Linked DNA regions of Homo sapiens. The protein of the gene in region 1 purifies or fractionates together with the protein of each later gene. This does not show direct contact. Each region holds a gene or a part of one and is shown in the gene's direction. Other genes may lie near its edges.

Region 1 (3,747 bases):
CTTCTTTTGGTTATGTGGTCCAGAGCAGAGAGGAGACACTCACTTCCAGGAGTCACTCCTGGACTCTTTCGCCACCCCTGCTGGAAGCATCGCCACCCCTGCTTGAAGCATGCTTAGTATCCTCTCCTGGACTCAGTGCTTCCGTACCCCTGCTTCTGCCAGAGATCATGTCTCAGCCTCAGAGGCCTGAGTCTTTCCCCCTCTGCCCTATGTGAACTTGTCCTCTTAGGAGATGAGGGTTACAGAAAAGCCGTGATGTGGAAATGCTGCTTCCAGATCCCTGGATCTACAAAGCAGTTGGGAGACCCTGGCTTTGTCCATAAAGCAGCTGGGTAAAGAAGTGGATGCGGTGATTGATGAGGCATCATGACTTACCCAGTTTGCAGTGGATAACTGATAGACTCAGAGGCCTGTCAGAGGTCAACAAGAACTAAGCTTGGAACCATTCTCAGTTCTTCAGCCAACAAGCCTCCTTCTTCCTGTCATCTCAGACTCAATACAAAATCTACTATCTAGAGGAATCATCTTTTGCCATCAGCACGAGCCTGCAAACACCGTCCCTAAATACCTGACTGCTAAATATACCTAAACTCAGGCAGAGCCAGAATTAGCCACCTTTTCTGAAACCATCTCAGCACTTCTCAGCAAATAAAGAAATTGCTTTTAGGGGCCCCTTTTAATCATGTCCTTAGGTTCATTAAGAATAGACCCTGTCTTACTCCATTTGTATTGCTATAAAGGAATACCCGAGGCTGGGTAATTTATAAAGAAAAGGGGTGTATTTGACTCATGGTTCTGCAGGCTCTGCAAGAAGCATGGCACCAGCATCTACTTCTGATGAGGGCTTCGAGCTACTTCTACTCATGGCAGAAGGCAAAGGGGAGCCAGCATGTGCAGATCACATGTGAGAGAGAAGCAAGAGAGAGGGAGGAGGTGCTAGGAGGCTCTTTTCAACAACCTGTTCTCTCAGGAACTAAGAGTGAACTCCCTCCTATGAGAATGGCACCAAGCCATTCATGAGTGATACACCACCATGACCCAAAACATCTCCTGCCAGGCCCCACCTCCAACATTGAGGATCAATTTCAACATGAGATTTGGTAGAGTCAGACAAACTATATCCAAACCATTGCAGACCCAGACAGAGCTCAGATACCAGAATCATTTCCTGGCTGTCTCCATAATTAAGCATCATGCTTTTCTCTTCTCTCCTAGAGTGTGGGATGTGAACACGGGTGAAGTTCTTAACACATTGATCCACCACAATGAGGCTGTATTGCACTTACGCTTCAGCAATGGACTGATGGTGACCTGTTCCAAGGACCGCTCCATTGCTGTGTGGGACATGGCTTCTGCGACCGACATCACTTTACGCCGTGTCCTGGTTGGCCACCGGGCTGCCGTCAATGTAGTAGACTTTGACGACAAGTACATCGTGTCTGCCTCTGGTGACAGGACCATCAAAGTAAGTATGTCTGCAGTCATAACCCTACCTGTTCCTGTCCCTTTTAGAACAGAGACAAAGCAGAGGTGGCTTATACCAACCTGGTACCTGGCAAGATCTTTATTCTCCTCTGTGCTTATGAACCCTTGAGGCCATCCCACTCTGTATATCTGTAGAGTTGTAGGCAAGGTAGGAGGAAAAGCCATCGGTCCAGAAGAGAGAACAGTCTTCTGTTTCATGACATGAAATTCTTGATCACCTTTTTAAGGGGAAGAGTGCTAACGTGTTGATCATGTATTGTGTGTTGGGAGCTTTACATTATGGTCTCAGTTAACACTCAGCACTTTTAAGGTAGGTGTGGCCCCATTTTACACATCTGGCTCAGAGAGTAAAGGATTGTGTTGGTGATCATCACAGCTAGTTAGTGGCAGAGCTTAGATGTTTTATTTATTCACCTAATTTTGAGGACTCGCAGTGCGGTGGACTCTGGGCCGGATGCTAGGGATATGATGATGAAGAAGACATGTCCTTGCCTTCAAGAAGCTTAGCATGCGGTGAAGGGGGAGGCAGACTTGTAACAAGGAGTTGAAGTCTAGGGTGATTCCCTAGGATATGGTAAATGCAGTCCTGATTCCAATATCTCAGCTAACTTTTTTGAATTTTAGCTTTCCTATGCTTTTATAACATCTTTACCGAGATATAGTTTCCATGCCATAAGATTGAACATTTTAAAGGGTGTAATTCCGTGGCCTTTAGTACATTTGCAGCATTCTATAACATTACCATTGTCTAGTTCCAGAACATTTTCATCGCGCTCTAAAACCCTCACACTCATTAGCAGTCAGCCTGTGTTTCTTCCCAGTCCCTGGTGATCACTCATCTACCTTCTGTCTTGGGATTGGACTATTCTAAACACTTCATATAATTGGAAGAATACCTTATGTGGCCTTTTATTTCTCGCTGCTTTCACTTAGCATAATGTTTTCAAGGTTCATCCATGTGCTTTGTAGCATGTATCATCAGCTTTGTCCCTTCTTTTTTTTTTTTTTTTTTTTAAAAGTACAGATGGGGTCTTGCTTTATTGCCCAGACTAGTCTTGGACTCCTGTGCTCAAGCAGTCCTTGGCCTCCCAAAGTGTTGGGATTACAGGCATGAGCCACCACACCCAGCCAGTACTTTGTTGCTTCCAGTGGCTGAATAAAATTTCATTGTTCATCTGTTTATTAGTTGATGGACATTTTAGTTGTTTCTATTTTTTTGACTATTACAAATGATGCTGTTATAAATATTAGTGTAGAAGTTTTCATGTTTTTAATTTTCTTAGGATGGTAACTCTGTGTTTAGCTTTTTTTTCCTTTTGAAGACAGGGTCTCACTCTGTCACCCAGGCTGGAGTGCAGTAACACAGTCATGGTTCGCTTCAGCCTTGACCTCCTGGGCTCAAGCAGTCCCCCAGCTCAGGGACTCCTGAGGCTCCCACCTAAGCCTCCCGGAGTAGCTGGGAGTACAGGCACTACCAGGCCCGGCCCTTTTTTTTTTTTTTTTTTTTTTTTTGTAGAGACCAGGTCTCACTTTGTCACCCAGGCTTGTGTTTAGCATTTTGAGGAACTGCCAAACTGTTTTCCAAAGGCGCTGTACCATTTTACAATCCTGCCAGTGGTATATGAGGGTTTCAGCTTGCTCAGAAGAACCTCCTTTTCATAACCAGCACTGGATAGCACTCTTATACCTAGCCCCACAAATCACGAAGTGTGTAGCATCAGGCTTTGCATTGGATAGCTGGGAAGCTAAACAACTAGGATTTATATGCGGCAACTTACTCCCACAGTCACACCAATTGGTATGAGACCAGTGCCTGGAAGTTGAGAGGGTTTGAGCTTTATTACAAAATAGCTGTTTCATAATATCAGCATGGAGGATTTCTCCATATCCTTGCCAACACTTCCTATTATTTGTCTCTTTTATTATATCTGCCCTAGTGATTGTGCAGTGGTACTCTGTGGTTTTGCTTTGCATTCCCTTGTTACTGATGATGCTAAACAACTTGTTGTATGCTTATTGGCCATTTGTGTACCTTCTCTGGAGAAATGTCTATTTAAATCTTTTGCCCACTTTAAAAATTGGTAATTTGCCTTTTTATTATTGAGTTATAAGTTCTTTATATATTCTGGGCACAAGTCCCTTATCAGATACATGATTTGCAAATATTTTCTCCCTTTCTGTGAGTTGTCTTTTCACTTTTTTGATGGTGTCCTTTGATGCACAAATGATTTTAATTTTGATGATGTTCAATTTATCAAGACT
Region 2 (3,747 bases), on another chromosome or scaffold:
GAGGCAGAAGAATCACTTGAACCCAGGAGGCGGAGGTTGCAGTGAGCCGAGATCGTGCCACTGCACTCTAGCCTGGGTGACAAAGCAAGACTCCGTCTTAAAAAACAAAACAAAACAAAACAAAAAAAAGAATAGCTTGCTCACTAAGGGCAGTTAAAAATAGGCTTCCCACCAGGGCCATCCATGGCTCATGCTTGTAATCCCAGCAATTTGGGAGGTAGAGGTAGGATTCCTTGAGTCCCAGGAGTTCAAGACCAGGCTGGGCAACACAGTGAGACTCCTATCTCTATTTGTTGAAAAACAGTAAAAAGGTTTTTTTTTTTTTTTTTTTTTGAGACGGAGTTTCACTCTTGTTGCCCAGGCTGGAGTGCAATGACATGATCTTGGCTCACTGCAACCTCCACCTCCCGGGTTCAAGCGATTCTCCTGCTTCAGCCTCCCGAGTAGCTGAGATTACAGGCATGTGCCACCAGGCCCCCGGCTAATTTTGCATTTTTAGTAGAGACGGGGTTTCTCCATGTTGGTCAGGCTGGTCTCGAACTCCCGACCTCAGGTGATCCACCCGCCTCAGCCTCCCAAAGTGCTGAGATTACAGGCGTGAGCCAACGCGCCCAGCCGAAAGTTTTTTTTTTTTTTTTTTTTTTTTAAGTAGAAACATAGTAAGCCTTCCAGAGACTTTTTTTTGGTCAAGTGGTCTGGGATCTCTCCTTAGAGAAACTGCCTAACAGGTTGCTTCAAGGATTGGAGAGCGTGTAAGCAAAACTGCTCGGCATCCACCGGGTGCTGGCAACATCTAATAACAATATTTCCCAATAATAACAGTAACTATTGTTACTAGTAGGAATAAGTCAAATTAGGAGGCGCGATTTAGGCGGAACCTGGAAGGCGGTGGGCAGGATCCAGGACATTCCAAGGCAGGCGTGGGCTTCCTGAGCCAGGAGCCAACCCTCCAGGAGCCAGGGGAGGGCCTGGGGCCGGAAGGTGCGGCGTGCGAGCGGAGGACGGAAGCTCGCCGCCAGGGTCCCCGTCCCTGCCCCAAGTCGTCACCCCCTCTTGGGGAGCGCATCCTGGCGGAGGGGCAAGTCCCACACGGGCTTTGTTATGAATGGGAAGCTGCAGCCTTCAGCCCGCGGAGGGAACAGTGCGGGTCTGGGGGAATAGCAGGGGACCCGGCAGCAACCAGCAGACCTCCCCGCAGCGCTGGCAGCCTGCGCCCGGGGGCCGCTGCCGTTCAGGCCCGCCTCCACCCTCCCCTCCCTGCCGGGGCCCCCGGCTTCCTAGGGCGGCCCCAGCATCCGAGGCGCCCTTTGCCGTCCCGTCGCCGGGTCCAAGATTCCCAGGATCCGGAGTCCCGGCCGTGCGGCCAGCTAAGCAAGGCGGGAGGGAGGAAGCTGGCCGGCCTCCGAAGTCAGCCCCGAGTTACATGTGGGAAGCGGTGGCTGTGACGCAAGTTTCCAGGGGGCCCTGGGCTCGGCTCGAAGGGAGCACACCGGAGAGGCTCCGCTCCGTGCAGCTGCAATGGTGAAAAAGCAGAAGCCCCAAGCGCGAACCCCAGGCCGCCTTCCTTGCTGCCGCTGCACGCCCGACCCAGCCGCGCCCCCTCCTCCCTGCGGGCCGGCCGAGCGCGCGGACCCTGCTCTGGGCCAGTCGCTGCTGGACTCCGGGCTGCACGGGCTGGGCTCCCTGCGCGGTGGCTGGCCTTTTTTTTTTTTTTTTTGCAACGCTTGCCAACCTGTCAGCTGATGGACCTCATCACCCATAGTGGCGCATGTAGCTCGGCCGCAGCTCGCTCCATTCACGCCGCGCCCCGCAAGCCCGCCCGCGGCCCCCGGCCCCCTGCGCCCCGCGAGAGGCCTGCAGACCCCGGTTGCAGCCGGTCCCCGGGGGCCCGCGCCCCTCTCGCCCCGGCCTCGCGCCGCCCGGGGGGCGCTGCAAATAGTCCTTTGTTTACATGCAATTCCTTACTCCGCGGAAGGAGGCCGGGGGAGTGCTGAGTTTTCACCAGCTGTTTCCCGCCTTGAAACAGACATCTGATCAGCTGCAAACACACACACACACACACACACACACACACACACACACACACACACACATACACACGCCCGGGGAGGCAGGCCGGAGAGACCTCCCTCCCGCCCCTCCCGCCCGCCTCCCTCCCCTCGCCGCCGCCGCCGCCGCCAGCATCTGGGACCGGCCGATTCTGCACCTCCGTCCGGCGCTGCCCTTTGATTCGGATTTCCATCTTGCATTCTCCGGCTGATCGCGGGACCTGGCTCGTGCAGAGGAGGGGGGCCGATCGCTATGGAGTATTTCATGGTGCCCACTCAGAAGGTGCCCTCTTTGCAACATTTCAGGAAAACAGAGAAAGAAGTGATAGGAGGGCTCTGTAGGTGTGTACTCCTCCTCCCCCCACCCCCTTCCTACCACTGCAGCCCCCGGCCAGCCCGCCCGGGCGGGCGCGCGTGTGCGCACGCATGGCCCGCGCCGCCGACCCCGCTAGCCTTTCTTAGCTGCCGGGACGGCTGCAGCCCCACACGCCGGGTCCGCGCCGCCCCGGGACCCTCCTTCCTTGGAGCATGGGGGCCCCAAGCGGCCCCGGCCACTTTTGTCCGCTGCAGGCGGGCGAGTCGCGACGTTTGTAAATTGCAAACAGACCCACGTGGTTCTGCAGCAGTCCCGGCCATGCTTGGTGCTGGTGGCCTTCCCCCCCGCGCTTCCTCTTTCCCCCTCCTGCGGCGGCTTCCTTCCTCTCCTTCCTTCCTCGGGATCTGAGGTCGTCCCCATCCAAGGGGGTCTGGGGGCCCGGGGCGCGCGTGGGGGTGTAGCTAGGGCGGCTACAATGCAGCCATGCCGCGGCTCCCGGCGCGGGGTGGGGGCGGGGAGCCGGGCACTGTGCGTGTTTGCAGAGCGGGGCTGCAGCGGGGTCGGGGGCGTGCTCGCGTGTGGGTGTTGGGGGTGGGCGGACCCCGAGGGGCCCGCGCGGCCGGTAGGGGCGCCGCGGCCCGGGGCACGTTGGCTGCCGCTCGCTCGCCCGCCCGCGCCCGGGCGCTGTTTACTAGCGAGGCCTGGACGTGACTCTGCAGCCCTCTTGGAGTAGGCGGACCTCTGCGCGCGGCCTCGCGGGAGCTGTAGTTCTCCGTGTCCTGCTGGTGCAGCATTGTGGGATTTGTAGGCGCTCCTGGGCCACGCTTTCCCTGCACAAAGCTCGGCCCCCGCGGGCACGATGGGCAAGGCAGGCCAGGTGGGCAGGCCATTTGGGGAAGGGACACCTGAGGCCGCCCCTAGCCTCGCAGGGCAGCTTCCCGCCGCACGTGGGTTTCCTCTGCAAACTTTCCCATCCAACGCCCCTCCCCCCTGCCGTAAACCGAAAGCGTCGGGTCCCCCAGCCGGGTGGGTGGCCCGAGGTCCGCAGGCCTCCCCAGAAGCCACTTTGCAAGCTTTGGTCCTAGGTTGCTCTAAACCCAAAGGGTGATGGACTCAAGGACCACACACAGCCAAACCACCCCGCACACTTCTTAAAATGCACATGCCTGGAACTCTGATCGCTGGGGCCCGGACATCTGCATTTTGAACGACCCCCTGGGCGTGGTGTGGGGGAGGTGGGCGTTCTACGGCGTGCGCAAGTTTGGGACCTGTGGCCCCTTTCCTGCCGCGCTGCTCCAGGAGCGAAATGGCTCCCCAGGGCTGGAGCCACGTGCTCTGCCGCCCGAGGCAGTCTGGGCGGGGATTGAGGGAGGAGGAGCCCGC

The links. The genes of interacting proteins can lie anywhere in the genome.
Region 2: the proteins of FBXW11 (region 1) and TFAP4 purify together in Homo sapiens (affinity purification with mass spectrometry; 8 studies listed by BioGRID and IntAct, with this or other methods). This does not show direct contact.

Annotation. Positions count from the first base shown.
Region 1 is NC_000005.10:171,874,003-171,877,749, reverse strand, and holds part of FBXW11 (F-box/WD repeat-containing protein 11), read left to right. Parts: intron 1-1,215; coding exon 1,216-1,465; intron 1,466-3,747.
Region 2 is NC_000016.10:4,271,301-4,275,047, reverse strand, and holds the start of TFAP4 (transcription factor AP-4), read left to right. Parts: upstream 1-2,024; 5' UTR 2,025-2,301; coding exon 2,302-2,390; intron 2,391-3,747.